Linked DNA regions of Homo sapiens. The protein of the gene in region 1 interacts with the protein of each later gene in a biochemical or structural test. Each region holds a gene or a part of one and is shown in the gene's direction. Other genes may lie near its edges.

Evidence for each region.
Region 2: the proteins of APPL1 (region 1) and TJP1 interact in a test that uses a peptide from one of them, tested with the Homo sapiens proteins (one large-scale study listed by IntAct).
Region 3: the proteins of APPL1 (region 1) and DLG4 interact in a test that uses a peptide from one of them, tested with the Homo sapiens proteins (one large-scale study listed by IntAct).
Region 4: the proteins of APPL1 (region 1) and TJP2 interact in a test that uses a peptide from one of them, tested with the Homo sapiens proteins (one large-scale study listed by IntAct).
Region 5: the proteins of APPL1 (region 1) and MPDZ interact in a test that uses a peptide from one of them, tested with the Homo sapiens proteins (one large-scale study listed by IntAct).
Region 6: the proteins of APPL1 (region 1) and RBBP7 form a complex in vitro, tested with the Homo sapiens proteins (one study listed by BioGRID).
Region 7: the proteins of APPL1 (region 1) and RHPN1 interact in a test that uses a peptide from one of them, tested with the Homo sapiens proteins (one large-scale study listed by IntAct).

Annotation. Positions count from the first base shown.
Region 1 is NC_000003.12:57,258,729-57,262,228, forward strand, and holds part of APPL1 (DCC-interacting protein 13-alpha), read left to right. Parts: intron 1-299; coding exon 300-352; intron 353-1,116; coding exon 1,117-1,291; intron 1,292-1,388; coding exon 1,389-1,425; intron 1,426-1,899; coding exon 1,900-2,046; intron 2,047-3,500. UniProt on the Homo sapiens protein: Multifunctional adapter protein that binds to various membrane receptors, nuclear factors and signaling proteins to regulate many processes, such as cell proliferation, immune response, endosomal trafficking and cell metabolism.
Region 2 is NC_000015.10:29,717,969-29,721,468, reverse strand, and holds part of TJP1 (tight junction protein 1), read left to right. Parts: intron 1-760; coding exon 761-1,111; intron 1,112-1,452; coding exon 1,453-1,692; intron 1,693-2,330; coding exon 2,331-3,203; intron 3,204-3,350; coding exon 3,351-3,448; intron 3,449-3,500. UniProt on the Homo sapiens protein: TJP1, TJP2, and TJP3 are closely related scaffolding proteins that link tight junction (TJ) transmembrane proteins such as claudins, junctional adhesion molecules, and occludin to the actin cytoskeleton.
Region 3 is NC_000017.11:7,207,628-7,211,127, reverse strand, and holds part of DLG4 (disks large homolog 4), read left to right. Parts: intron 1-2,888; coding exon 2,889-2,954; intron 2,955-3,500. UniProt on the Homo sapiens protein: Postsynaptic scaffolding protein that plays a critical role in synaptogenesis and synaptic plasticity by providing a platform for the postsynaptic clustering of crucial synaptic proteins.
Region 4 is NC_000009.12:69,177,277-69,180,776, forward strand, and holds part of TJP2 (tight junction protein 2), read left to right. Parts: intron 1-766; exon of another isoform or gene 767-853; intron 854-3,500. UniProt on the Homo sapiens protein: Plays a role in tight junctions and adherens junctions. Acts as a positive regulator of RANKL-induced osteoclast differentiation, potentially via mediating downstream transcriptional activity.
Region 5 is NC_000009.12:13,224,193-13,227,692, reverse strand, and holds part of MPDZ (multiple PDZ domain protein), read left to right. Parts: intron 1-3,109; coding exon 3,110-3,319; intron 3,320-3,500. UniProt on the Homo sapiens protein: Member of the NMDAR signaling complex that may play a role in control of AMPAR potentiation and synaptic plasticity in excitatory synapses. Promotes clustering of HT2RC at the cell surface.
Region 6 is NC_000023.11:16,853,363-16,856,862, reverse strand, and holds part of RBBP7 (histone-binding protein RBBP7), read left to right. Parts: intron 1-3,020; coding exon 3,021-3,181; intron 3,182-3,500. UniProt on the Homo sapiens protein: Core histone-binding subunit that may target chromatin remodeling factors, histone acetyltransferases and histone deacetylases to their histone substrates in a manner that is regulated by nucleosomal DNA.
Region 7 is NC_000008.11:143,371,876-143,375,375, forward strand, and holds part of RHPN1 (rhophilin-1), read left to right. Parts: intron 1-1,856; exon of another isoform or gene 1,857-2,259; coding exon of another isoform or gene 2,260-2,418; exon of another isoform or gene 2,419-2,422; intron 2,423-3,500. UniProt on the Homo sapiens protein: Has no enzymatic activity. May serve as a target for Rho, and interact with some cytoskeletal component upon Rho binding or relay a Rho signal to other molecules.

The DNA of each region.
Region 1 (3,500 bases):
GCTAGCTTATTTAAATTCAAGAACTTTTGCAACATGGTTTATTATGTTGATTTTTTGTTGTGTATGTCTAAACTTCCAATTCATCTGTGTCTTCTAAAGTGCACCAACATTGATCAGTTAGTGTGTGAGGGCAGAGGCCTTCATCATAGTAATTTAGTGATCAATAGTGTTTCTTAATAGGATGGGGCATTTTAGAGCTTTTTTTTTTTAAATGTTAACTGTGGTTTTAATAATTAGATTTCTTCTATGTGGCTCATGGTAACTGACCATGTGTTCATATTTTCTTCTAAACTTTTTAGGCGTACAAATCCATTTGGAGAATCTGGAGGAAGTACAAAATCTGAAACTGAAGGTAAGACAGATGTGCAGCATTCATATATTTTAGAACTGCTTCTCAGCAAACTGTGAATAATTTATTGTTTATATTTGCTCTGCTACTAAGCTCAGTTTTAATGCTATCTTTACTTCAGAATTTCCTCTACTTACTTATAGTACACTTGAAGCAACAGAACTTAATCTGACTTAAGATGTTGTGATTCATACAAAACGATAGACTCTCATACTTTTGACTTTATAGTCAAATTCAGTGCCTAAGATACCTTTCAAGCTTTTCCTAACAGCTGATGTTTCTCTTCTGGTACTGGAGCATAAATTTTGTTTTTCCGCCACTAACTATTTATTTGAATTCTAAACTTACAGAAATGCTGTAAGAACCACCAGTTGTTGTGTGTTTGTGTGTGTGTGTGTGTGTTGAGACAGGGCTCCCTATGTTGCCTAGGCTGGTCTCGAACTCCTGGGCTCAAGGGATCCTCCTGCCTTAGCCTCCCAAAGTGCTAGGATTACAGGTGTGAACCACCACGCCTGGCCTCAGAACTGCCAGTTGTTGAAGCATTACTTTTAGCTATTTGAATTTGAAACCCTAATTTTCCTATAACTTGGAATACTGTAGTTAGGAGTTATTTTGAAATGTCTCCCTTAGGCTGTTGAATTTTTCACTAGAAAACCTAAAAGGAGGCAGTGTATTTTATTCTTTTGGAAAAGAAATATGGCGAAAAAAATAAAATGTAAATTTATACAGTAAAAAAAAAATATGTAATACACCTTGTTCTATTATAGATTCTATTCTTCATCAGTTATTTATTGTCCGATTCCTTGGTTCAATGGAGGTGAAATCAGATGACCATCCAGATGTTGTTTATGAAACTATGCGCCAAATCTTAGCTGCCCGGGCCATCCATAACATCTTTCGTATGACAGAATCGCATTTATTAGTCACTTGTGACTGTTTAAAGTAAGTAAAACCCTCCCTTAAAAAACTGTAGAAAAAACATTTACATGATTTCAGCCTAATTAAAATTTGTTTTCCAATTTTTAAATTATTATTTTAGGTTAATTGATCCACAGACACAAGTTACAAGGCTCACGGTGAGTTCCACATGATTTAAGCTTTGTTTTAGGTCCCTTTGTATATATACACATCTTACAACTTGATAATAATCCTGATCCTGTATATTCAAGTGTGATAGTATCAGCTATGATTGGTCTTTGGCTGTTGTAGTTAAGTCTATGGCCATCTCCAAAAAGTTGTCATTGAACATTTTATGTAACTTAAAAGAATTAACACAATTCTTTTTGTAATTTTTTTAACACAGTTCTTTTTGACTTTGTAAAATGTGTTAATGACTAATAAAACAAATGTAATATTCAACAACCTTTTTCTGCTTGTTAATTCAAACCAAATATGACATTACTTGTTTCTGCATTACAAGTCTGTTAAAATAATTGGCTTTAATATATTAAAATATTTATATTTTTAGAACTTAGCATATGAGTTTGTCACAAGTGCTGCTGTAATGACTTGTAAGATCTCATGTTTGCTTCTGATGTTTTCTGTGGCAGTTTCCATTACCTTGTGTAGTTTTGTATGCTACACACCAGGAAAATAAGCGCCTTTTTGGATTTGTTCTTCGGACATCAAGCGGGAGAAGTGAAAGTAATCTGTCATCAGTCTGCTATATATTTGAGTCAAACAATGAGGGGGAAAAGGTACATGGCTTTTCAGAATATCTCTGTCATAACCACTTACTAATTGATTCTTACTAAGATTTAATAATAATTAAATTCTTACAAATTAAATTAGTTAGTAATTACTGATTGAATTCTTTACAATTTATACAAATTTATGAGGCACATGTGAATTTTGTTACATGTATAGAATGTACAGTAAGCAAGTCAGGGTATTTAGGGTGTCCATCATCCAAGTACAATACATTTTTGTGAAGTATAGTCACCCTACTCTGCTGTCAGATATTAAATATATTCTTTCTATCGTAATTTATGGTTGTACCCTTTAATCAGCTTTTCTTCATCCTCCCCCTTTCCTCATCACTCAGCCTTCCCAGTCTCTGTTGTCTGTCATTCCACACTCTGCCTCCACGTGATCAATTTTTTGGCTCCCACATACAAGTGAGAACATGTGATATTTGTCTTTTTGTGCCTGGCTTATTTCACGTAAGATAATGACTTCTAGTTCCATCCACGTTGTTGTGAATGACATGATTTCATTCTTTTTATGGCTGAATAGTACTCCATTGTGTATATGTACCACATTTTCTTTATTCATTTATCTGTTAATGAACATTTAGATTGACTTAATATCTTTGCTATTGTGAATAGTACTACAGTAAACATGTGAGTGCAGGTATCCTTTTGATACAGATTTCTTTAATTTTGGGTAGATACCCAGTAGTGGGATTGTTGGATCGAATGGTAGTTCTATTTTTAGTTTTTGTTGTTGTTGTTGTTTTTGAGACGGAGTTTCACTCTGTCGCCCAGGCTGGAATGCAGTGGTGCGATCTTGGCTCACTGCAACCTCTGCCTCCTGGGTTCACGCCATTCTCCTGCCTCAGCCTCCCGAGTAGCTGGGATTACAGGTGCCTGCCACCATGCCCGGCTAATTTTTTGTATTTTTAGTAGAGACGGGGTTTCACCGTGTTAGCCAGGATAGTCTTGATCTCCTGACCTCGTGATCTGCCTGCCTCAGCCTCCCAAAGTGCTGGGATTACAGGCGTGAGCCACCATACCCGGTCTATTTTTAGTTTTTTGAGAGATCTCCATACTGTTTTCCATAGTGGTTGTACTAGTTTATGTTCCCACCAACAGTGTATGAGTTCCCCTTTTTTCTGCATTTCACCAACATCTGCTATTTTTTGTCTTTTTAGTGATAGCCATTCTGACTAGGGTAAGAATGGCTCATTGTCATTTTGATTTGCATTTCTCTAATGATTAGTAATGTCGAGCATCTTTTCATATACCTGTTGGCTGTTTTTGTGTCCTTTAAGAAATGCATATTCATATCCTCTGCATACTTTTAAGTGGGATTATTTGATTTTTTCCCTGTTGAGTTCGTTGTATATTCTGGATATTAGTCCCCAGTTGGATGAACAGTTTGCAAATAATTTCTCCCATTCAACAGGTTGTCTGTTTACTCTGTTATTTCT
Region 2 (3,500 bases), on another chromosome or scaffold:
TGCTTCTGGGGAGGCCTCAGGCAACTTACAATCGTGGCGGAAGGGGAAGGAAGCATGTCTTATATGGCTGGAGCAGGAGGAAGAGAGTTGGGGAGGTGCTGCACACTTAAAAAAACAGATCTTGGGAGAATTCTATCACAAGACTGTGTGAGGGAGATGGTGCTAAACCATTAGAAACCACCCCCATGATCCAGTCACCTCCCACCAGGCCCCTCCCCCAACACTGGGGATTACAATTCAACATGAGATTTGGGTGGGAACACAAATCCAAACCATATCAGTTGTTTCCTAAACATAAATATATTAGCTCTTATTCAACTTTTGAACTGTTGGGTTTATTTCATAGGTATTCTTCCATGTGCTATTCTGTCAGTGTGTCCTTGTTTCTGTGAGCTTAGTTTGGTAACATTCTCCCTCTTCCCCTTGCTTAAAAGGGCTGAAGAGCTAGTGAGTAGGTTTTATAAATCTGAGCAGTGTCAGAGTTTCTTCGTTGTCTTCCAGGGCTGGGCCCTGGAGTCTAACTTTGTCCTGGCTTACCGGCCACTGTTTCCTTCATCCATGCCCTTCAGATCTCAAGGGGTGCTCCATGTGTCTGCGTGTGTGCTTGTACAATCTTCTTGACTTTTCCTTACCAGAAGTTTCAAGAAGTAGATGTGACTTCTCCAGAGAAAGATATCCTTTTCAATCTGCCTTGTACGATAAAGGCCATCTCTTAAAGAACTACTGAATAAAATTTGTAATTTACTTTTATTTGACCCAGGCGGATGGTGCTACAAGTGATGACCTTGATTTGCATGATGATCGTCTGTCCTACCTGTCAGCTCCAGGTAGTGAATACTCAATGTATAGCACGGACAGTAGACACACTTCTGACTATGAAGACACAGACACAGAAGGCGGGGCCTACACTGATCAAGAACTAGATGAAACTCTTAATGATGAGGTTGGGACTCCACCGGAGTCTGCCATTACACGGTCCTCTGAGCCTGTAAGAGAGGACTCCTCTGGAATGCATCATGAAAACCAAACATATCCTCCTTACTCACCACAAGCGCAGCCACAACCAATTCATAGAATAGACTCCCCTGGATTTAAGCCAGCCTCTCAACAGGTAAGCAGCAAGCATTCAACGTTTTGTAGATAGAGGTGCATTATTAAATTTTAGAATGTGGTGATTGAGTTAAAAATATATATGTTGTCCTTTCTCCAGATTAAGAATTAATCTTCAATTTCAATTTGAGAGTACCAAGGGCTTAATTCTAAATTTTGTGTGTTTGTCTTAACACAGCAATGTACTGGATTTTTTTTTTTTCCCAAAAAGTTTAGGACATGAGGTCATAATTTTGTTATTCAGCACACTTAAAATGTATGTCTACCAATCACTATAAATTGAAGTGGAAAGTTAGCAGTAAACAGAAACACTATATTTAAAATATTTTAAACACTTCACAGAAAGCAGAAGCTTCATCTCCAGTCCCTTACCTTTCGCCTGAAACAAACCCAGCATCATCAACCTCTGCTGTTAATCATAATGTAAATTTAACTAATGTCAGACTGGAGGAGCCCACCCCAGCTCCTTCCACCTCTTACTCACCACAAGCTGATTCTTTAAGAACACCAAGTACTGAGGCAGCTCACATAATGCTAAGAGATCAAGAACCATCATTGTCGTCGCATGTAGATCCAACAAAGGTACCTGTGCTGCGGTGTTGCACTAATTTGTTGCTGTCCATCAATCTGGCACATGATCATTTTTGCTTTGCCCTTTAAGTGTTCCTTTTGCTTTTTTACTGCAGGCTTATACACTGTAATGCTTTCAAATCAATACAAATCATTTCAGTTTCGTAGTTTGCATGGCTTCCATTGGTATACTGATTATTTGAAAACAGGCCTTTTAATTGAGATTTGTGCTTATTATTTTTATTTTTGGCTTTCAGTATCTTCCAGAATTCCTTAATATGTAATCGAAACCCATCATAAACATATTTATGTTAATACAAATTATGATGCCCATAAATCTTCTTTAGGATTTTTCAGTGTCAAAATGAAGTGTAATCAATAGTGCATTAATTTTCTACTAAATTTAATATTTATCTTTAACTCACTGTTTATTTAGTACATGCTGAAACATAAAAGCCCCTACCTGCATTATAAATTTTGAGCTTTCACTTAAACCAGCTTTTTCCACTAATCTTGTCTATCCTGATAATAAATGGTAAAACATACCATTTTCACATATTAAATCGTAGTTTAATATTTAATCACAGTCTAATAAAATAGACTAGAATTAGAAACAAGACTTTGTCCTTAAATGTGAATTTTTTATACAGGTGTATAGAAAGGATCCATATCCCGAGGAAATGATGAGGCAGAACCATGTTTTGAAACAGCCAGCCGTTAGTCACCCAGGGCACAGGCCAGACAAAGAGCCTAATCTGACCTATGAACCCCAACTCCCATACGTAGAGAAACAAGCCAGCAGAGACCTCGAGCAGCCCACATACAGATACGAGTCCTCAAGCTATACGGACCAGTTTTCTCGAAACTATGAACATCGTCTGCGATACGAAGATCGCGTCCCCATGTATGAAGAACAGTGGTCATATTATGATGACAAACAGCCCTACCCATCTCGGCCACCTTTTGATAATCAGCACTCTCAAGACCTTGACTCCAGACAGCATCCCGAAGAGTCCTCAGAACGAGGGTACTTTCCACGTTTTGAAGAGCCAGCCCCTCTGTCTTACGACAGCAGACCACGTTACGAACAGGCACCTAGAGCATCCGCCCTGCGGCACGAAGAGCAGCCAGCTCCTGGGTATGACACACATGGTAGACTCAGACCGGAAGCCCAGCCCCACCCTTCAGCAGGGCCCAAGCCTGCAGAGTCCAAGCAGTATTTTGAGCAATATTCACGCAGTTACGAGCAAGTACCACCCCAAGGATTTACCTCTAGAGCAGGTCATTTTGAGCCTCTCCATGGTGCTGCAGCTGTCCCTCCGCTGATACCTTCATCTCAGCATAAGCCAGAAGCTCTGCCTTCAAACACCAAACCACTGCCTCCACCCCCAACTCAAACCGAAGAAGAGGAAGATCCAGCAATGAAGCCACAGTCTGTACTCACCAGAGTTAAGATGTTTGAAAACAAAAGATCTGCATCCTTAGAGACCAAGAAGGATGTAAATGACACTGGCAGTTTTAAGGTAAATATGTCTTTAGTGCCTTGGATGCATGGGCACACCGTTTAAAAGGCTTCTTGGCTCTCCCCTCCGCCATTACATGATATCTATTCTGTTAATTATCTGTTCCTTAGGCATATTTGTCTTTTTTTTTTTTTTTTTTTTAAACAGCCTCCAGAAGTAGCATCTAAACCTTCAGGTGCTCCCATCATTGGTCCCAAACCCACTTCTCAGAATCAATTCAGTGAACATGACAAAACTCTGTACAGGTGAGTACACTTTGTGCTCTTTGTGGCATAGAACTGACCAGGAATTTAACCC
Region 3 (3,500 bases), on another chromosome or scaffold:
CCCCTCCCGACGTTTCTCCCCGCCCCCCTACATGTACGTCGAAAATTTCCAGAGACTGAACCTAGTCCCTAACCTCTTCCAGCCACATTCTGGAAACCCTGGCACCCATTTCTTGTTCCCCATTTTCTCCATGTTGCCTCCCAATCCTGAGGAGCCTTTTCTTCAGTGCCAGACACCACCCTCCCTCCATGGGGGTGGGGCAGGGAGAGGTATTGGGGGCTCGCTGAGATAAAAGTTTACCTTCATTTCCTCCCTAGAATAAATGATGAAATGGCCCTCCTCATGTTTCCATTTTCTTTGGGTGCACGCTGACATTTCCTCCTCAGATTCAGGAATTTTCTCTCTGAGGTGGAGTGAAGATGGAGAGGCACTGGACTCAAACCCTCCCCCAGACTCCAAAACTTGGAGCTTTGGTCCTAATTTACCTTGCAGGGAATTGGAGGCCTTGTGAAGGAAGAGTGGATAGCGGAGAGCGGCTTCCACCCCTTCCCCCAGGTCTCAATTCTGGGGCTTGCCCCTCAGCTTGTGCACTGCCCAGGTAGAAGACCACCTTCTCAGGATGTGGAATGAACAGTCTCTGTTGGTTCATAGAACTCCTTTATTCAAGACAGCTCAGCCTTGGAGGAGGGCTATTTTGTGTGTTCTCCTATTTTCCTTCTCTACTTTTTGTGCCCATCGGATTGAAATCTGGAGTTCAGGATTCTCTCCAAGTCTGTGGCCCAGAGAATAGACTCAATCTTGCTGAGCCCGTTTTCCTTCTTTAAGACTCTTTAAATGTATCAGGGTGCTTCTTGATTTGAGTTGTCTCTGTGTTCTGGGTTTGAGAGTTTTCGTGCTGACAGGACCACTTCCCTTCTCCCATTCTCTTACTGTACCCTTACTCTACAGCCAAAGTTGTGTTATATTCTCAGCCTTGATTCATCATCTTTAACATTTTCAGAATCCTACTCAAGGATTGGCCATTGACCTTGATAAGCTTCCTCCCATTTGATCTCGCAGCTGCTGCCCTCTAAGTATTAGGGCACTCTCAGCCTCTCAGAAACTTTTGGGAGGGAAATTCTGCTCGCCCTCTCTCTTTTTTGTTTTGGAGATGGAGTCTCACTCTGTCGCCAGGCTAGAGTGCAGTGGCATGATCTCGGCTCACTGCAACCTCCGCTTCCCAGGTTCAAGCAATTCTCCTGCCTCAGCCTCCCATGTAGCTAGGATTACAGCCATGTGCCACCACGCCCAGCTAATTTTTGTATTTTTAGTAGAGATGGGATTTCACCATGTTGGCCAGGCTGGTCTCTGACCTCAGGTGATGTACCCACCTCGGCATTATAAGCATCAGCCACTGCTCCTGGCCTCTCTCTCTTTTTGAGACAGGGTCTTACTCTGTTGCCCAGGCTGGAGTGCGGTGGCGTGATCATGGCTCACTGCAGCCTCCACCTCTTGGGCTCAAGCAATCCTCCCACCTCAGCCTCCTTAGCAGTTGGGACTACAGGTGTGCACCACCATGCCTGGCTAATTTTTGTATTTTTTGTAGACAGGGTTTCACTGTGTTGCCCAGGCTGGTCTCCAACTCCAGCTCCTGGGCTCAAGCTGTCTGCCTGCCTCAGCCTCCCAAAGTGCTGGGATTGCCGTGCCTTCTCTTTTTACCCATGTGTACTGGGCGGTGCATTCTGTCTTCTTCAGTTCCTGAGGGATCCCTGCGTATGATACCTTCCCCTTCCTGAACCTGGAGCTTGGAGGGTCAGTCTCTGTGGAGGCCCGTTCCAGAGGAGAGGAGCAGGCGAGGGCAGAGGCGGACACGGAAGGACCCAGGCAGAAACGCTGTCTTCTTCTGCTGTCTCCATCTGCCCTTTTCCTCCTTCTCTGGCCCCCAGTTAATCTCATTTTACTGTTGTCCCTATTAAGCTAGCACAGGAGGCCCTTGGGATGGCAGCTGATTAACTGGGCAGGGAGTCAGGGGTCATGTTGGGCCTTTCACCCCAAAAGAGCAGAGGGAGACCAGAAATTCACTCTGAGGCTCAGCATGCTACCCTCCTCCCCAACCAGGGAGGCTGGCACCCATTCTTGCCCCTGTCCTGAGCCCTGCTGTCTCTGTTCTTCCCCTTCCTCCCCCAGCCCATGCCCTTATAGCATAACCGGATTAGCTGGCTGGGCTGTGGGCTGTTGCAGGGGTAGGGCCAGACTCCCGGGGCCCCTCTGTTGACTGCTTGGAAACCAGCAAGGGCAGTGAACTGGACAGGCTTAGCCTTGTCCTGTCTCGGGGGCTGATACCAAGTACCTTCTGGTGGAAGGGGTGACTTCAGTCCTTGCCTAAGGAGTGCAAGGTAAAGGAGAGCCAATCACCTGTGGGGTAGAGGCTGCAATGGGGAGACTGAGGCCATGGAGGTGGGGCGCGGGGAGGATGCCATGCAGAGTAGGAGCAGCCAGAGGGGTAGGGGAGGGGAGGCTAGAACAAGAGTGAGTCTGAGATGGTGAGAGAAGCAAGGAAGTTGGGGACTGGAGGCAGAGAATGGAGATGTGAGTGTCGGGGCTAGAGCTCTGAGAAGCTGGAGGGACTCGAAGATGAAGGTGGTGGGGAAAGGGGTGAAGACACAGATGCCAGAGGGGCTATGCCCACCAGAAGGCCAGTGTCCCAGGATGTGAGGAGTAGGAGTTGGGGGATGGGATTGGGACCTGGGGATTGATGAGAGGTGCTGAGGCCCTGGCGGGAGAGGGGGCTGTTGGGAGAGTGGAGAGAGGGGAGCCAATGGGCTAGAGGAGAGGGAGGGGGAGGAGCTGGTCAGGCCCCAGGGCCTTCCGCACTGCACTGGCTGGGGGAAGAGGCGGCGGCCAGGGCGGCCAGCCTGGAGCCTGAGGCACCGGGCTGGCCCCAGTGACACCTCCGTCCCCATCCCCAGAAATACCGCTACCAAGATGAAGACACGCCCCCTCTGGAGCACAGCCCGGCCCACCTCCCCAACCAGGTAAACGCCCCCGAGCTGGTGCACGTGGCGGAGAGGAACTTGTCCCACCTCGAGGCTGGCCACGGGGTCGTGGGCCACGCCCACCTCTCCCCCTTCAAGGTAGGAGACCCTGGTGGCCCCCTCCCCAGTGCGGCCCTCGGAGCCTCGGAGCTGCAGCAATCCCTAAGGGCCGGTAGGGTGAGAGAGAGCCGTGGGGAGGGGGATGCTGGGACTGGGGGCGGGGGTTTGGGGCTTGGGCTCCTGGGGTCTGGGGGAGGGGGCGTTTGTGGGGCTGGAAACACCTTGGTCCCACAGAGGAGAAACAGGCCAGGCCAATGGGAGTGGATGTAAAGCCTAAAGCAAGAATGTGTGTGTGCGCGCGTGCCTGTGCGCGTGTGCTGTGTGTGTGCCTGTGCGTGTGTGCATGCATGCGTGCCTGTGTGTGTGCTGTGTGTGTGTGTGCGTGCGTGCGCCGTTTGTGTGCCTGTGCGTGTGCTGTATGCGTGTGTGTTGAGGTGTGTGCATCCCCCAAGAGGCCCCCACGCCTGGGACCTCTTCATTCCTTCA
Region 4 (3,500 bases), on another chromosome or scaffold:
GGGAAGCAGAACAGTTTTCTCTGGTGTTTTACTGAGTTTTTGTCTTGATCCTAAATCCAAGGGTTAGGGTCAGAAACACAGACTCAGAGGTTAGATTTAACACCCATTTAGTGGGTTAAACACATCAATGGTTATGTGAACTTTGTTAAGGTTTAAAAAGCTATTTAGGGCCTGTTTCTCCCTCATAGGAATTTTTGCAATCAGCCTTTTTAGTAGATGCCCATATAGAAAGTGAATTTGGGAGGGTCTAAGGTGGTATTACTATTAAACTTTTTGAAAAGGCTGTGTGATAGCAATGGAAAAAAAAATTCAGGCATGGAAATCCAATATGCAGTATTGCAGTAGCTAGTTTTAATTTTATTTTTGTTTTTTTGGTTTTTTTTTTGGAGATGGAGTCTTGCTCTGTTGCCCAGGCTGAAGTGTGGTGGTGCGGTCTTGGCTCACTGCAACCTCTGCCTCCCGGGTTCAAGCGGTTCTCTTGCTTCAGCCTTCAAAGTAGCTGGGATTACAGAAGTGAGCCACCGTGCCCGGCCACTAGTTTTAATTTTGGATGGTACCTAGGAAAGCAGTTGAGCTAGTATGCTGCATACATTGTAGTGTGAGAGGCAGAGTTCCGAGTTGGAGAGTGTCTGCTTCCACTTTTTCCATTTGATTAGGAAAAGCACTTCTTAGAACTGGGTGACTGACAGCTAGAGCCCCAGAAGACCTGCACAAGCTGGGGCAATGGCTACCCATAACAGTGACGGCTCCATTCTGTTTTTTAAAGGGATTGGTGTCTCTATCATCCAGCTGGCCATTAAACAACCAAAGCTTCATCATCCTAGATAACCTGTGAGCTCTCAGAGGAGACAGAGTAAGGACTATCATACCCCCAAAATACCTAATCATTTAATAAAGCATTTTCTCTACCTTTTATGCTATCCCAAAACAGTGCTTTCCAAAGTCTGGTATACAGACAGACTTACAGGTGGTGCAGAGAGATACATATTCTATTTTTCAATTATGATGCATGAATATTATATGTTAGGAATAAAAACAGAAAACCAGCTACCACATCCATTTATTTCATGGCTAGATTGCTTAGAATGAGGCAAAAATAAATATTAAGTAAAGCAGTGAGTTTGCTTTAAGAAAAATTATCAACTCTGGGAATGAGTAATATGAGGCTAAGGCAAAAATGGTAAAGCTAGCCCTTGACATCTGAGGTGTGCATAATACTGCTTAAAATATGAGTGTGGTGCTTACTTATAGAGAGCCTGGTATACCTTGACCACGCCTTCAAGAAAGTCAAACACAGAATGGCCCAGAATAGCCAGGAAAGTTGAATTTGATGGACTTTCTGTCTTAAGCGTGTGCATCCTGCTCTTATCCACTCAGATCTCTTAGATGTGGTTGCAGACAGTGTATTTGTAGAGCTAGCTGTTTGTTTTAACGTCTGGCCCAATTCTCATTCCTTTCTCTGCTTCCACAAGCCATTCTGCAGTTTTTAAAGGTCTGTTGGTATGATATTTTTGATATGATAGAGTGATAGGGGAGGAAGTATTTTGACACTGATGAAGGACATCACTGTATTATCAAGTGACTCTTGCTCATGATTCATTGCCGAAGAATGTGGACAGCCAAACAGCCTCACCTGTAAATGCATTTAATTTCTCAAAGTCTTTCAGAAGAATGCCAACTGGATGAGTTTTTTTTTCTTATTTTTTTTTTAATATGAAGCTTGTATTGGTCTGTAAAATAGGCTTTAACAAGGATTTTCGTAGGAACAGGAAGCCTTGAGGTAGAAAACAAGTATCCCTGCTTTGACCTAGAGAGATGCATGCTCATGGCAGGCGAATGAATCAAGGAGAAGAGAAAATACTGTTTCAGTAGACTCTCTAGTGATGTGTGTGTTCACACCATTTATGAGAAATCCTAAGCTTTCAATTAGTAACTTGTACTTTAGTCATTTAAAATCAGCACAGATGTTTGTTTAGTGCCTCTGCCAGATGGTTAAAGTTAAATCAGGTTTTTTAACCTGAAAAACGTAATGTAGCTTTCCTTAACCATTTACACACCATTGTATATTGCAGACCATAGTCAGATACATTTTGTTATAATGAATGTTTATTTTACCTTTTAGCTCAATTAGAATATCAGTGGTTATGGTTTCTATTTTGTTTTCCTACAGTTACTGTATGGGGGTGCAGTAACAGCGGTGGTGGTGAAAGTAAGTTACTTTTTTCTTTTTCTTTCTTTTTTTTTTTTTTTGAGACGGAGTCTCCCTCTGTCGCCCAGGCTGGAATGCAGTGGTGCGATCTCGGCTCACTGCAAGCTCCACCTCCCGGGTTCACGCCATTCAGCCTCCCCAGTAGCTGGGACTACAGGCGCCCGCCACCACGCCCGGCTAATTTTTTGTATTTTTAGTAGAGACGGGGTTTCACCATGTTAGCCAGGATGGTCTTGATCTCCTGACCTCGTGATCCACCCGCCTCGGCCTCCCAAAGTGCTGGGATTAGAGGTGTGAGCCACCGCGCCCGGCTGAAAGTGAATCTCTTAATGGATCTTCCATGAATCAAATATTTGTGTTTTAGTAAGTTAGGCTGACCAAAAGATTTCGAATCATACCTTTAATCATGGCAAGGATCTTATGTCACATTCTTGAGTACACATGTTCACTAAATTTTACCTATATGTGTATGTGAACATGGACTTCAGAATTAATTAGTGTGGTAATTATTATTTCTATTGTAGACTTTAATCAGCCATATTAAATATATGCATTATGTTCACAGAGAAAACATGGTATCATCTTTGGAAACTTTACAGTATGCTCTATATTATAGATACCCTATATAACTATGGTACTAAACACACGAGTTAGTGACAAGTCAGGCATTTGGAGGGAATGTTTGTAACCCATTGTGGGAGAGAGTTATTAGAATAGTTATTCTTACTGGTAGGTAACAGTTATGGCTGTAATGAATAGAATGTGACTAAAATCCAGTTATGCCTTTGCCATCGTATTAAAAGCTTTGGTGGAGACGTGAGAACATTGCAGATACTTTGGATTTTGTCACTTGAGTTGAAGGTAAACAGAGAAAACAGTACTTTCTAGTCATCAGTAGGAATTAACTCTTCCAGGACATGTAGCTTCAAGGACCTTCTAGGTTCTTCTGAGGGGGAAATAATGTTCCACTTGGGGCCATTTTTTTCCATTTGTTGAGAGTCATTTGTTTTCAGAGTATTAAAGGAAGTGTTCCGAGTTCTAGGTTGTGTTTCTTTGATGCCTACTAAAGCTGAGCACACCTGAGACCCTGGGTGGAGCTCTACAATGGGAATAGGAGTAAGTAATGTAGGCTTCGAGAGACAATCATTCTGCTCTCAGTCCTTGGAAGACTGTTCCTAGGTATATATGGCAAAGCAGATGAAATTATTTGAGGGAATTAATTAGCAAAACTAAACATTTCTGTTTTTGAAAGGAATGAATCATTTGGAAGGAACTTCCTGGTGAGCTCAGT
Region 5 (3,500 bases), on another chromosome or scaffold:
TACTTGTTCTGCTCTCACTCACTTTACTCTTAGAATGCCTGTATACCTACTCTTTCATAATATCAGAGCTTCTCTTTTACCATGAATCTCTTACAGACAGACTCTCTATTCTCGGGATGCGATTTGTTCATTCTGGCTTACCATAGCATAAGTCCAAATATTTTTTCCTATGCAAACATACCATAGCCATTAGGTCTTGGTGTGTGGGATCCTCAGGCTGTCACAAATTTCATTATGCCATCTGCTTCAACCTGAGCTGCGTGTCTTCTGCTGGCAAACTTTATTGAAGTTGCCATGGCTCAGGATAAAAAAAAAATCAATCTTGGCATAAGAAGCTTACTTTTGAAAAAATAATAATTGATCATGCCTGCTATAGATTTTAAAATAAACATTTAAAAGGATTCCCAAAAGTCTCTTCTCAACACATTGATCTCTTTTTCATCTGTGATTGTAGAAAGCTAATATAATGGTTAAGTTATTGGTAACTTTGGTAACTTAATGAGTTTTCTGTTTTATTTTTAAGGATAGGTAACAAACTCTTATGTATAGATTTTGGTGACATATTGTGAAATATTTTGATAGCTTCTGTCAGTGGATGTTCTTTACCTAATGTTTTATTTTAAATGATATCTCAAATGTTTTGTGGATAATACAAGGACTGTATGTTTTCTGTATAATACAAGGATGATAGGAACACCGTGATGAAAAAAAATCTAGGTCACAAACAACTTAGCTGTGTGACTTTACGTAATTTCATCATCCTTAGCATTGAGATGATACTTGAAAGGTTGTTCAGGAGATTGGATCAGAGTTAGATCCTTAAAAAATAGATAAACATTTTTTTTCTGCCAATGTATGTTGAACAACTCTGTATAAGGCATTCTTCTAGAGAACGAGGGCATAGTAAAAATAAAATAGTCAAAAATTTCCACTGGAGAGTTTTTGCATTCTAGTCGGTCTCCACTGACTGGGATGAAAGCTTCATGACAGCAGGGTGTGGATCAGGTGGTAATGAGTGCCATGAATTAAAACAGGGCACAGTAAGTTCGTGGAGTATAATGGTGCTGTCTTAGATAGGAATGCGAAGGAGGACTTTTCTGTGGTGAGATTAGGCACACCTGAATGAAATAAGGAAGCATGTGGATATTTGGGGAAGAATATACCTGTTTGGTAGAGTGAACAGCTTGGCACTTTGAGGCACAGTGAGGAGGGGAGCACAGCTAGGGCTAAGTGGGTGAGGGACAGACTGCTAGGAGATGAGGTCAGAGAGTGACTCAAAAACATCAATGAAGTAAGCTTTCTGATAAGTAGTTACAGATAAAAAGTCACAATCCAGGCACCCAACATAAATATGAAATTAGGATTGACTGCATTGCTTTATTATTATTTAGATTTAACTTCAAACTCTTTTAAAAGGCACACACAAATAATTATAGAATCATTTCCCAAAGTGGGATGATCTTTTCCGTTGTTGTTACGTGTGTCATTGTACTTGGAGTTAGCCAGACAGCACGATTTGAGGGCACAGTCCTCCAGACTGCCAGTGCTGCCCCACACTTCTGATACCAACTGTGGCGAGTTAGGGTCCAGCTACAAAGTTAAAGGTATAAGGATACACAAAACCACCCTCACTTATGATGTCAGCTGCAAATTTGCGAGGTTCCCCTAGCCACCTTGAGGTTTCATAATTCACTAGAAGGTCTTAGAGAGTCTCTGAAATCTGTTAAACTCATGGTTATGATCTATGGTAGGGAAAGGATGCAGTCAAGAGTCAGCCAAAGGAAGAGATGCGTAGTGCAGATTATGGGAGGATTCCAAACTGGAAGCTTCCATTTTGCTGGGAAAGTATAACTCTCCCAGAATCGATGTGTGACAATATGTATAGAGTACAGCCATGTGTCATTAGGTGATTTCATCCTTGTGCAAACATCGTAGGGTATACTTACCCAAACCTTGGTGATATAGCCTACCACACAGCTAGGCTATTTGGTATTGCTCCTAGTCTACCAACCTGTACAGCATGTTACTATATGGAGTACTGTATGCAGTTGTAGCACAATGGTAATTGTCTGTGTTTCTAAATATAGAAAAGGTACAGTAAAAATGTGGTTAAAAGGTAAAAAATGGTACACCTGTATAGGAGACACGTACCATGAATGGAGCCTGCAGGACTGGAAGTTACTATAGGTGAATCAGTGAGTGAGTGGTGAGTGCATGTGAAGGCCTACGACATTACTGTACACTACTAGATAGTCAATATACTGTATGCTACTAGATAGCCAATATAATGGTTGAGTTATTGGTAACTTTGGTAACAATGAGTTTTCTGTTTTATTTTTAAGGACAGGTAAAAAACTCTTATGCATAGAGTTTATACATAAGTTATAAATACTGTACACCTAGGCTATAGTAAATTTACAAAAACTTCCTTCAATAATAAATTAACCTTAGCTTACTGTAACTTTTTTTTCCTTTATAAAGTCTTAATTTTTTTTTAAACTTTTGACTCTCATAATAGCACTTAGCTTAAAGCACAAACACATGTATAGCTGTGTTTGACTGTGTTGCAAACCCAGGAAGATTACCTGATCTTGGTGTTCAGCATTTTTTATTGGCGTGTTATTTCATAGGTGTGATTGATTGCCCTGCCTATATGATTAAAATTCAGCTCCGAGTTTGGGCTTATATCATGTGGCCTTGGGGCCCACCATGAAGAAGAAAGATACCTCATCACTCAGGAAATTCTGAGAGGGGAAATTCTGAGAGTTTAGAGGTTACTTCATAGGATCTGGGGACAGAAAAATATATGTGTGGATGTATATATTTATGGGTGTGTTTTAATGAGTACCCTGAAGTTGAACCCTGGCGGTAGTTTTTGAATTTTCCCATCTAATAAATGGTGCTGCATTGAACATTTAGTGATGCACACACATCTTTGTGTATTATCCTAATGTTCATCCTTGAAATAAATTTCCCAAAATAGAATTGCTGGATTAAAGGATTTGGACATTTTGAAATTTCATTTGTATGTCCTTGTACCCTTGGGATATTTTCTATGAAATAGTTTATGGAATGTCAAAATTCTTAATAATCCCTGCATTACTCTTAGGTAAATATTGCAACTTCAGCAACTTCAAATATTGAATATGCCCACGTTCCTCATCTCAGCCCAGCTGTGATTCCTACTCTGCAAAATGAATCGTTTTTATTATCCCCAAACAATGGGAATCTGGAAGCACTTACAGGACCTGGTATTCCACACATTAATGGGAAACCTGCTTGTGATGAATTTGATCAGCTTATCAAAAATATGGCCCAGGTAAGAACATTTCTTTCTGTTAGTTATTGTAATACCTGTAGTAATTTAAGAATGTGATCAAGTTATGGATAATTTGAAGAATATAGTGACATTTATAACATCTGAAAACATTGGAACAAAAAGTCAGTTTTGTGGGAGTTTAGATGGTTCAGACGTTTTCTATTACAGTTTTATCATCATT
Region 6 (3,500 bases), on another chromosome or scaffold:
CATTTGTTTACAAGTTTTTGTGTAGATGTATGTTTTTATTTCTCTTGGATATATACCTAGGAGTGGAATTATTGGATCATATGGTATCTCTGTTTAATTTTTTGAAGAATTACCAAACTGTTTTCCAAAGTGGCTTTCCATTTTACATTTCCACAAGCAATGTACAAATGTTCCAGTTTCTCTACATCCTCACTAATGCTTGTCTTTTTTATTATAGCTATCCTAGTGTGCATAAAGTGGTATTTCCTGGGTTTTTTTTTGTTTGTTTTTGGCTTGGGGGTGGGGAGTTGGTTTTTGTTGTTGTTGTTGTTGTTGTTGTTTTGTTTGTTTTTTGAGACGGAGTCTGTCTCTGTCACCCAGGCTGGAGTATAGTGGCACGATCTCAGCTCACTGCAACCTCCACCTCTCAGGTCCAAGCGATTCTCCTGCCTTAGCCTCCCAAGTAGCTGAGATTACAGCCATGCACCATGAAACCCAGCTAATTTTCGTACTTTTAGTAGAGACAGGGTTTCACCATGTTGGCCATGCTGGTCTTGAGCTCCTGGGCTCAAGCAATCCTCCTGCCTTGGCCTCCCAAAGTGCTGGGATTACAGGCATGAGTCACTACGCCCAGCTCATTGTGGTTTTAATTTGCATTTCCCTGATGACTAATGATGATGAGCATCTTTTCTTGTACTTACTGGCCATTTGCATATCTCCTTTAGAGAAATAGGTATTCAAATTCTTTGTCCATATTTTAATTTTGTCTTTTTATTGTCAAGTTATAAGAGTTTCTTATGTATTCTAGGTATAAGTCCCTATGATTTTCAAAAATTTTCTCCCATTCTGTTGTCTTTTCACTTTTTTTTTTTTTTTTTTTTTTTTTTTGAGACAAGGTCTTGCTCTGTCACCCAGGCTGAAGTGCAGTGGCTCAGTCTCGGCTCACTGCACCCTCCACCTTTCCAGCTCTAGTGGTTCTCTACCTCAGCCTGTCAAGTAGGTGGGACTACAGGCGCCCACCACCACACCCAGCAAATTTTTGTATTCTTTGTAGAGATGGAGTTTTGCCGTATTGCCCAAACTGGTCTTGAACTCCCGGGCTCAAGTGATCCACCTTCCTTGGCCTCCCAAAGAGCTGGGATTATAGGCTCTCTGAAAGGATGCTTCCCTCAAAGTGTGTATGAGACGGTTTCCCAAGTAGGGAAAGTGGATAAGTGGATTGTACTCAGTAACCCAATTACTAGTACCTTTTGAAGAGACCAGGCTGGGAATTGGTAGTAATAATAATAGCTGACATTTACCAGGGGCTACCCACATGCCAAGCATCATGCTAATCTTGCCAGGTCCTTCTGAGTCAGTGTGAATGGCAGGAGCACCACATGTTCCTTTCTCTTCAGTTCACACACATTGAGTGTCTTCATGTGTAAGTAACAACAGAGACTGAGGGCATATGTATTGTGTAAAAAAAAATTTTGTTACTGGGAAAATAGCCATTACTGGGAAATAGCTTTGTTACAGAAAGTCCTTCATGTGGCTGGGCACAGTGGCTCACGCCTGGAATCCCAGCACTTTGGGAGGCCAAGGTGGGTGGGTCACCTGAAGTCAGGAGTACAAGACCAGCCTGGCCAACGTGGTGAAACTCCGTCTCTACTAAAAATACAAAAAAATTAGCTGGGCTTGGTGGCATACACCTGTAATCCCATCTACTCGGGAGGCTGAGGGAGGAGAATTGCTTGAACCCGGGAGGCGGAGGTTGTAGTGCGCCAAAATTGTGCCCTTGCATTCCAGCCTAGGCAAGAGAGTGAGACTCCGTCTCAAAAAAAAAAAAAAGGTGATTTAATAAAAACAGATGAAGCCCTTTCATGATCACGTGCTATGAATTAAAAAAAAAAAAAAAACCCATACCAGTGTCGGTGGAACTATAATTAGTGCTAATATACCTTCATGGTATTATTTCTTATTAACTATTGAATGAGAATCGTTGCCCTATACCTTGCAATATTTTTTCATTAAAACTTTCCTCTTAACTCTTTCTGTGATAGGATGTCAAGGCCCACATCATGAGGCCTCCTTATTTGTGGGCTGCTGTGACCTTTGAGGCCCAAGCAGAGGCCCCATGGCCTCTGCTTGGGCTCTGCTGACGTTTCAAGGAGCACATCATTGGGGATCTGTCTGTGGGCGCCAGGCCTTGACCTCTCAGAGTAGACTAGTAGAGGTTTCTGGCCCAGTGTCGTTTACCTGTCCCATCTCCTGATGTCTGTGGTGGTTTCTGCCATGAAGTGAAAGACTTGTCCATGAGGCTTTTGCTATGTGAGAGGCAGAGTTTAATTTTAATTCCCAGTCTTCCCATCCCAGTGTAAACTTTTAGGATGTGCATTTGTGTTCAGTAGATGCTGAGCGCCGGGCTCTTGGTGATTTGTTGTGTTGTCTAAGTGAATTTGGGGTACTTGAATGTCTGAATGTATGTAGGTAGAAATTCCAGCATCAGTGTCCTTGCCTGCCACTGTACTCAGTCTCCCCTCCCCCTCATTACAGTGGAGTGTCCTTTTCCTCTGCACCTCACATGGAGGCTGCAGCCACATACTCTTCTGTTTGCTTATATTTTCTCTCTTGTGTTTACCTCAAACTTATATAGTTGAATAGTTTTGTTTGTAATGAAATTATTTTAAATAAGATGTTAGCATTTAAATTCAATCTCTTGACCGGGCACAGTGGCTCACACCTGTAGTCCCAGCACTTTGGGAGGCCAAGGCAGGCGGATCACTTGAGGCCAGGAGTTCAAGACCAGCCTGGCCAATATGGTGAGACCCCCGTCTCTACTAAAAATACAAAAAAAATGAGCCAGGCATGGTGGCTTGCACCTGTAATCCCAGCTCAGGAGGCTGAGGCAGGAGAATCGCTTGAGCCCTGGAGGCGGAGGCTGCAGTGAGCCGAGATCGCACCAGCCTGGGTGACAGACTGAGACACTGTCTCGAGGGAAAAAAAAAAAAATCAGTCTCTTATAGCCCTTGTTCTTTTTTTTTTCTCTCCTTCTCTCTTAGACTGTTTGTCTGTGGGATATAAACGCAGGACCAAAAGAAGGCAAAATTGTGGATGCTAAAGCCATCTTTACTGGCCACTCAGCTGTTGTAGAGGATGTGGCCTGGCACCTGCTGCACGAGTCATTGTTTGGATCTGTTGCTGATGATCAGAAACTTATGATGTAAGGTGGAAAATTCAGTGGGATCTTGTTAAATGGGTGACCTGAATGACCATCAGTGATTGCTGCAGGCTGTAGTTTGATTTTTTTTTTTTAAGTTATGGCTTTAAAAAACAGCTTTAGGTAGCTTACTCCTGTAATCTCAATACCTTGGGAAGCTGAGGCAGGAGGATTGCTTGAGACCAGGAGTGTGAGACTCTACACAAAATTTAAAAACAAAAAATTAGTTGGGTATGGTGGTGTGCACCTGTAGTCCTAGCTACTCAGGAGGCTGAAGTGGGAGGATCACTTATTATTTAGAAAAAAAGAAAACTAGGTATGG
Region 7 (3,500 bases), on another chromosome or scaffold:
TCTATGCCCCTTCCACTGGGCTCAACCTTCAACCCAGTGTGGAAAGTGGGGCATGGGCCGCCCACCTCCAAGGTCTACCCAGCCTCAAAGGTCCGGCTCGGGTCTGCTCCTCCGCCTGTAGGCCGGGAAGTCACTTGGCCTGCAGGGAGCACTGCGGGTAGGGAGGCCGAGGAATGGACCAGGCCCACAGCAGGTGCCTGTGGGGCTCCAAGGGGCCAGGCTCCCCGCAGCTCTCCTGGGGCCAGGAGGGGAGCAGGGACCTGGCTGGGTGTCTGATGCCCGTCGCACAGCCAGAGCCCTTAAAGCTGCTGGAGCCTTGCAGCGGGGCCTTTGCGGGGAGGGGGTGTAGCTGCGGTGGGTGGCACGGGGGTCTCCTAGGTACTGGGCAGAGGCCCTCGAGGTGGTAGCGCCGGTGGGAAAGGTAGGGATGGGAGGCGGGGGTGGGCGGGCCTCAGGTTCAGGGAGCTTCTCAGATCTGAGGCGCCCATGCCCCTCTCCCACCTGTGGGCCTCTCCAGCCCGAGTCCCTGAAGCAGCTCTGGAGGGAATTTCTTTTCTGGAGGAGGCGGGAGTGAGAAACGGGAGCAGGGTGAGGGTTCCCAAGTGCACATCGGCCCGTCCGCTGCTGGGTGGTGTCCACGGGGGCAGGGCTGGGCTGGGGGAGGCCAGGGTCCTGGGCCGGCACACCCTCCTTCCGGCTGCCTGTGTCCCTCCCTCCAGCTGCCTGTGTCCATCCCTCCGGCCGCCTGTGTCCCTCCCTCCGGCCCCTAAGCGCCAACTCATCTTCAGTTCAGGGACCTCCGTCAGGCTCCCTCACCCCAGCACTCAGCAGGAGGCTGCCGGCCTGGGTGTCCAGGGGATGGTGCGGGTGTCCAGCAGACAGTACAGGGGTTTGGGGGATGGTACAGGTGTCTGGGGGATGGCGTGGGTGTCCAGCAGATGGCGCAGGGGTTTGGGGGATGGCACAGGTGTCTGGGGGACAATGCGGGGGTTTGGGGGATGGCGTGGGTTCCAGGGGATGGTGCAGGGGCTTGGGGGATGGTGTGGGTTCCAGGGGACGGTGTGGGGGTTTGGGGATGGCGCGGGTTCCAGGGGACGGTGTGGGGGTTTGGGGATGGCGCGGGTTCCAGGGGATGGTGTGGGGGTTTGGGGATGGCGTGGGTTCCAGGGGACGGTGCGGGGGTTTGGGGATGGCGTGGGTTCCAGGGGACGGTGCGGGGGCTTGGGGGATGGTGTGGGTTCCAGGGGACGGTGTGGGGGTTTGGGGATGGCGTGGGTTCCAGGGGATGGTGCAGGGGCTTGGGGGATGGCGTGGGTTCCAGGGGATGGTGCGGGGGCTTGGGGGATGGTGTGGGTTCCAGGGGACGGTGTGGGGGTTTGGGGATGGCGCGGGTTCCAGGGGATGGTGTGGGGGTTTGGGGATGGCGTGGGTTCCAGGGGACGGTGTGGGGGTTTGGGGATGGCGCGGGTTCCAGGGGACGGGGCGGGGGCTTGGGGGATGGTGTGGGTTCCAGGGGACGGTGTGGGGGTTTGGGGATGGCGTGGGTTCCAGGGGACGGTGTGGGGGTTTGGGGATGGCGCGGGTTCCAGGGGACGGTGTGGGGGTTTGGGGATGGCGCGGGTTCCAGGGGACGGGGCGGGGGCTTGGGGGATGGTGTGGGTTCCAGGGGACGGGGCGGGGATTTGGGGGATGGCGTGGGTTCCAGGGGACGGTGTGGGGGTTTGGGGATGGCGCGGGTTCCAGGGGACGGGGCGGGGATTTGGGGGATGGTGTGGGTTCCAGGGGACGGTGTGGGGGTTTGGGGATGGCGCGGGTTCCAGGGGACGGGGCGGGGATTTGGGGGATGGCGTGGGTTCCAGGGGACGGTGCCTCATCCTCCAGTCTCTGTCTCTGCCTTCCCATGGCCACCTCCATGTGACTGTGTTCAAATTCCCCACCTCGTATAAGGACCCTTGTCACTGCGATTAAGGACCCCCTACTCCAGGGTGGCCTCATCTTAACTCATTATATCTGCAAAGACCCTATTTCTAGAAAAATTGCAGTCACAGGTACTGGGAGTCAGGACTTGAACCTGTCTTTTGTGGGGACACAATTCACCCATAATAGATGGTCACCCGCTCAGCTGGCTGCTGTGATTTTGGGGGGCTGGACGAGCAGGCCTTCTGTCTAGGAAATCAAACCTTTCTTGTATAATGGGAATAAACTAATTAAAATGCACACAAAGATCTCGTTCACATTAGCAAAAAGAACTCTCTCCAGATATCTAGGAGAAAACCCAGGAAAACACGTGTGAGCTCTTTACGGGGAAGACGGGAAGGCCTGAGAGACGTGTGTGCGTGGAGAGGGTGTCGGGTCCACAGAGGGGAAGACCCAGTGCGTGTGCACGTTGGCCCCATGAATCCGCAGCTTCATGCAGTGGTAGGTCAGTTTCATGGTGGCAAGATTCACCTTCAGACGCCACAAGGTCCTGGGGAAGAAGAGGTCCTGTCTCCCGACAAGGGCGGGAAGCAGTCCCAGGAGCCACCAGAGGCCTTGTCTTGCTGCTGACTGGCAGAAATGGCCAGGTTGGCCACGCCTGACTCAGACCAGGCTCGCCCCAGGGCTGGGTGGGAGTCAGTGTCCCTGAGCAGTGAGCCCTGAGCAGCACTGTGGGTCTCAAAGCATGGAAGGAGTGGGTGCTGGAGAGGCAAGCCAGCCAGCCCACGCCTGGGAGCCCACCCAGGGGACAGCCACAGGTAGCTGCAAATAATCTTGTCCGGGTGGAGACCCAGGCATTCCCACATGGCCACGGGGAAGAGTGGGGGTTGGGAGGCCATGGTGAGAGGGAGGGACACGTGAGGATCATGTGGGCAGGACCCCAACACCACAAGGGTGGGGTGGGCTGAGGCATGAAACTGGATCTCCCTAGAGTGAAATGTAAGCTCCAGCACGCTGGCACCACTGACGACACAGGAGCCATCAAAGTCCAGAAGGGGCCCCGCTGGGCACGCCCCACTCTTTCGCCATGGCTGGTGCTGGGCAGGGCCGCGGGGCTGCAGTCTGGGTGCAAGGCTCAGAGTCATTTCTCTGTGGATAGGGAGGGCACGGGTGTGCGTTCGCTTCGAGAACCATTCCCAAAGTCAGACCGCAGCCTCTGCACCAACCATCGGGGGCCAGTGGCCGCCCCCAGAGCCTCAGGGACCCTGTCCTTTGAGCCCACGCCTAAACCCACATGGGAATGATTTGGAGGCGTGGGTGAGTTGGATGGGAAAAAAATTGGGAGGGGCAAGGGGGGGATCCAGAATGAAATCCAGAAGCGCAGAAGGAAGGCTGTGAGGAGCAGTGGGCCGCCTCCTGCAGGGCTCCCGGAGCCCCTACTTGTCCAGGCTGCCTGGTGAGACCCTGGCTTCTGGTGTCCTTGGCAGGTGCCAGCCTCCCCCGCTGACCCCCATCACGAGTCAGCAGCTTACCCCACCGACCACGTCCTTCTGCATTGACTGCCTCCTGTCCTGCTCTGGCCA